Linked DNA regions of Homo sapiens: region 1 is linked to region 2. Evidence: fine-mapped expression QTL. A gene starts in region 2. The other region holds a variant in brackets. All regions are shown on one strand. Distances are between the middles of the regions. Region 1 has its middle 16 kb from the start of C6orf141. Region 2 holds the start of RHAG (Rh associated glycoprotein).

Region 1 (2,927 bases), 71 kb before region 2:
GTGGGAGTCTTCAAGTTCCAACCTTGCTAAAAAAAAGAGTGAATACCTTTTTGTTGTTGTTGAGACAGAGTCTCACCCTGTCACCCAGGCTGGAGTGCAGTGGCACAATCTCAGCTCACTGCAACTTCTGCCTCCCTGCTTCAAGCAATTCTCATGCCTCAGCCTCCAGGGTAGCTGGGATTACAGGTGTGTATGACCAAGCCTGGCTAATTTTTATTTTTATTTTTATTTTTTTGTATTTTTAGTAGAGATGGGGTCTTGCTATGTTGCCCAGGAAGGTCTTGAACTCCTGGACTCAAGTGATCTGCCTGCCTTGGCCTCCCAAAGTGCTGGGATTACATGCGTGAACCACTGTGCCCAGCCAGGAGTGAATACTTTTGATCTCAGCAAGCTGGCTGTATGCCCAAACAATTCTCTGTTATTAACCATTGTTTTTTTAGTTATTCACAGAGTAAAACCATTGCCTCATGTTTAGTATGATGTGATCCTCACTTAAGAGTTGAATTTTCTTTATTGCAGTTTTTTTCATTGCCATTTTGGTGACGTCCATGATCTCAGGACAAAGTGTTATAAAGTACCTTCCCCTCACAAACACACATCAATTATAACTACTGATTGGTGACAGAAGGACCAGTTTCATGTTTGAAAGACAAAACCCTAAAGCTCTAAGTGAAGGTTCTATTTGTGAAATGTTTTATTTATTTGTTGGATGGAGGATGGCAGTAAGGATGTTTCCACTACAGCAGTTAGCATAGGAACTCATTCTGATGTGACATGAGAATGCTCTGTGATGGTACAGCTGACCACCTAAATAATCTCAAACCGCTTGGCAGAATACTGTGGCCGGCGAAGTGCAGGAAGGAGAAATTCATGCTACGGACAAGATAACAGTGAGAACTGAGGCTCCGGCGCATATGCAGAGCCTAGGCCTGGGCAGAGCGTAGGTCTTATGAGGCACTGGTCAAGTGGTGAAGCCAACGTCCAGGCTTAGGTCCAGGTCCAGATGGGAGACTCCAGGGAGTGGCTGGAAGGTGAACTTTGCAGGAGGCTGGTGAAAAACAGGAAAAGCTCCTTCCTGCGAATGACTCACCAGCACACATCCGGCGACCTGGACACAGACATGCTGGGGGGTTATAAAACATATTGGCACAAAAATCTGAAAAACAATCTAGACAAAGACAAAAACAGTCCACATGTGATTTCTTCTATTTTGGAATGTGTAGATCACTCACTTAACTTTCCCTGAGCTTCATGAGCTCTGCCTTCCAGTTTAAGCCCTGGAAATACATAACGAAGCACAAAAGCCAGCTTTGCTTTATGAGCTCCATGGAAAAGACACACAATAAAATGGTCATATTTTAATGTGAAAAATGTTAATGACAAGTAAAGCCAAGTGTGTCAAGGGGACATAGTAAAGGGGCCTAATGTGGCTTGGAGAGTCAGGGAGGGCTCGTGCTTTGTACAACGGCTTTGTATCTAAACTCTCATACAAAGGGTGAGAAGTTGGCCAGGCAAAGATGGGGAATTTGTGGAAGGGGTCATGAAAGATTTGAGGGCTGGAAGAAATTTCACTCTGGCTAGGGCA[T/C]AGAGCGCGAACTAGGTTCTCAGACCCGAAGCCAGAGGAATGAGTAGAAACTACATCACGGGACCTTGGAAACCAACGTTAAGAAGCTGCCAAAGCACCTTGAGGAGAAAGACTTGATTAGTATTATATTGAAACATGAATTATTTGGGAAATGTCAAGGTGTCTGAAAAGTGGAATGAGTTAAAATTGAGGAAGGAAGCATTCTAGGTAAGTTTTTATTAAAACTACTGTGGTCTTAATGATTATACATATGTATTTCTTAAGACATTGTGTTGAGAATGGTATTTTTTTTCAGCTTAAGTTTAATGAGCTTTGTGGTTGTTTTACAGAGCAAAGATAGCCTACTGCACTGAAATGTAGTATTATTAAATGTTTCTACTTCCAGTCCTTCAGAAGACCCAACCAGGTCTTTTCATTCCTGCTCCCATAGTCTGTAAATCCTAAACTTGCTGCTTGCTGCTTGTCAGTAAAATGTTGCATATAATTTAGTTAGATTTCATGTTTTTGTTTCTTTAATTTACAAGGTAAGTGTGATAAGTGTACTGAAGACTTCAAAGCTCAGAAAAATATTTAAAAGCAGATATATTGACCAGGTGCAGTGGGTCACCCCTGTAATCCCAGTACTTTGGGAGGCTGAGGCAGGTGGATCACCTGAGGTCAGGAGTTTGAGACCAGCCTGGCCAACATGGTAAAACCCTGTCTCTACTAAAAGTACAAAATTAGCCAGGCATGGTGGTATGCACCTGTAATCCCAGGTATTCCAGAGGCTGAGGCAGGAGAATCACTTAGAACCTGGGAGGCGGAGGTTGCAGTGAGCCAAGATCGCGCCACGGCACTCCAGCCTGGGTGACACAGGGAGACTCTGTCTCAAAAAAAAAAAAAAAAAAAAAAAGCATTATTTATATAGGACTTCCAGCAAATAGATTAACTCCAAGAATGAGAAACATTTTCTCACTATGTCTGATAACAAAGCAAGCTTTTTGGGAGGTGAAAGGCTGCAGATAGTGCCTGGAAATGCTTGTTAAATAAGAGCTAACCATTCAATTCACAAATGTATGTTTCATAGCAACAAGATTGATATGTTTAATGTCAATGTCGCTTGAGCTTGGCTCTGAGATTTGCTCTCAAGGGGTTTGCTGTGTAATAGGTGAATCTTACAGTAAATAGGTAGTTTTTTGTTGTTGTTGTTGTTGTTGTTTGTTTTTTTTTTTGGAGACAGAGTTTCACTTTTTCACCCAGGCTGGAGTGCAGTGGCACAATCTCAGCTCACTGCAACCTCCGCCTCCCTGGTTCAAGCAATTTTTGTGCCTCAGCCTCCTGAGTAGCTGGGACTACTGGCATG
Region 2 (2,902 bases):
AGAAAAGCAAATAGTCTATATAATAGTGACATACTACTGTCTTCCTTCCTGGCTAATGAGGTAATGGATGTGTTGGTTTATAATAAGGACGCAGTAAATGGTAGTTATTGTTATATTAACTATTTTACAGCCTACCCTTCCAAACTTGAATTAAATTTCTCTCTTTGCTCAATCATCATTCCCAAGGAAGGATTTTGTTTTTAAAATATGTTAAGTATTCACACATTTCTTTTCATCTCAAAGTAACAAACCGACTTCCTTTCAGAATATTGTAAAACTCTGAGTACACTTTTTTGATTAAAACTCCATTAACTTCCTACATCATACTAAATACCCCTTCTTATTCCTTAGGGTCCTCACATGAAATCTAGGGTTCCCTTCTTATAACTCCATTCTTAGAACTCTCTCTCCTCCAAAGTTACCTTTGGCCCTTTCAGTGGGGAATGCAAAGGAAGCGTGATACTTTTCTTTGCAGAACTAGTGACCAACTGAAGGAAAAAGGTCATTTAGCAGTAGATAAGCAATACAAAAGGCATCAATTATTTTAATTTTCAGCTTCTTGTTCTGATATTTTAATAGGAAAAAGTTCCAACCAAGCACCTTAATCACAGAGAAGAAGACCAGATGTCACATCACAAACATGTAATATCCTTAGCACTCATAACCATCATATAATTCTACAAAGAGCTCAAGGGTTTATAGTATTCAATTGTTTTACATTCTGAGAAACCGAAGAACCGAAAAATGTATAGTAAGTAGTAAATTGCCTACTCACGAGGATATAACTCAAAGAATATGCCCATGTCTGTTGGCTTGGTGATGTTGAGCTGCTCGAGAACAGTCTGGTCCGTTTCATACTCAACAAATAATCCAAATAAAACAATCATGGCAATTTCCAGGACTATAGCCATGAGAGGGAATGTGAACCTCATGTTTGTGGCAAAGGACAGAGGCACACTGAGAGCTTCACAGGCTGTGAGATGTTGATAAGAACAAAGGACTGCTCTGTGTGTGGAATTTGACTGCATGTTCAAGGCACCCCAATGACATCACAAGAAAAAAAAAATGGGCAAGACTGATTAAAATGCCCCACCCATTGGGGAAAATTATGCTCTGTAATCTAATTGTCGTTCTAAATGTTGATCTGAAGAATATGCAATGAAATTGTGAGAACCTGGATGATGCCAACAATCTATTGCACAGGCCTCTAGAATCATGTTTAACTTAATTCAGTAGACATTTCTTGAGGGCTTATTGTATACCAAATATTGTGGTAGGCTTTGTAGAAGGCATGAATCTAAAGCAATATATATAATTGGTCTGTTAACTTCTTGAGAAAATTAAGAATCTAGTTGGGAAAACATAAATATAAGTGAATGATTATATAAAAACAAATATGTGATATAATAGTGGTTATAAAAGTATTATAAAACATAAATAAGGCAGTGAAACTTTTTGCCTTAGGCCAAGAACATTAGCATATAAAACAATATGGATGTGAGAACTAGAACATAAATAGGGTTTTTCAAGTAAAACAGATAAGAGGGAATGATATAAATCTTGGAAGAACATGGCATGTTTTGGAAACGGCAATCAGTCAAGCAAAGCTGGAATGTAAAAGAGATGAAGAGAAAAGGAGGAAGTGGCAGAGATAATGTTGTCATGGAGGTGGCTGTGTTGTAAAGACCCTCACATTCAGTACCGAGGATGCTAGATGCTAAATATTATCCCATGAGCAATGGGGAATATATAGGACTGTAAGCAGTTTTATGTACTTATGAAGTTTTTGACTCCTTACTCTGATTTACGCAAGTGAAAATATGGAAATACACAAATGAGTTGTGATATATCTTTTAGTCTTAAATAGGAAGAGAGTAAACTTAAACAGGAACATAACTAATCTATCATCCTTATAGATAGTCAAGTGTAAATAAGATGCTAAGCAATTCAAAACTACCATATAGGTGGAGGAATTCTTGTCTCCTCTTTGGAATTGTTCTCATGGCAGAATAAACCTGTTTTTGAGAACTAAGAGCTACCAGTTAAATACAATTTCTTTCATGAAGCCCAATTTCCAAAAGATTCTATGCAGAATTTGGAGAGAGAGTGCAACTGACTGCCAGGATACATACATTGTAATAAATATTTATAAAACAAAGCAGCAGGATTTTTTGGTCTTTCTGGTATGATTTTCCACAGTAGAACATGATATGTTAGGACTAAGTGATATTTGAAATTTTATAAATATACAGACACTTTGAAAAATGACTATTTCCATTATTCGTTACAGCATAGTACAAGAGGAGTGGGTTCACATGCTTAGCTATGAAAATACATGTGTACATCTCACACTTTAATTTTTGGTTTTGCAGCAGCCTAAAGAGTGTTCATGAGAACTCCAACAAATCCTAAATGAAAAGTGTATATGTTAATAAACTATGCATAAACTTGTGAAAACCAAGTATCAAATAATAAATTGCAAGAACATCTAAACAATATCATAAACCAATGCGGTTTTAAACTCTTTAATAAAAAGTGACACAGTATATTAAACAATCCAAGACCGATGGCATCTCTCTTTCTCTGGGACATTTCCAGCAGCTCAGCAACCACTCAACACATGGGGAGTAGAGGATTTTACTCATATAGGTGATGGGACTATGCCAGCACTTGACTTCAGCCTGTTCAACTTCGAGGAATTCAGATTTTTTGCCTTATTCTGAATGTAGACATTTGTATTGAAATAAGCTGCATTGTCTACCATCTGGGAAATTATTTCTCTTGTTCAGTTCTTCACATAAGCTTCTCTTTGTAACTGGAAATCTTCCCACATATTCTCTGCTCCCTGTCCTATATACATCATCCATCATTCTTCAGTTTTCAGATAAAATGATACTTCCTC

Evidence for each region. PIP is the estimated chance that this variant, and not a neighbour inherited with it, causes the effect. A credible set is the group of variants that fine-mapping cannot tell apart.
Region 1: its variant is the best candidate, but not a certain one, in a credible set for the expression of RHAG in breast (GTEx, PIP 0.50).

What each region holds. Positions count from the first base shown.
Region 1 is chr6:49,565,031-49,567,957 of GRCh38, forward strand. It overlaps the pseudogene CYP2AC1P. Among named protein-coding and RNA genes, the nearest start is that of C6orf141, 16 kb to the left of the region's middle. The variant T/C (reference allele first, on the strand shown) is at 1,586.
Region 2 is chr6:49,635,881-49,638,782 of GRCh38, forward strand. RHAG (Rh associated glycoprotein) reads right to left here and starts at 959. Exons shown (of 10, transcript NM_000324.3): 1 at 776-959. The coding sequence starts at 932.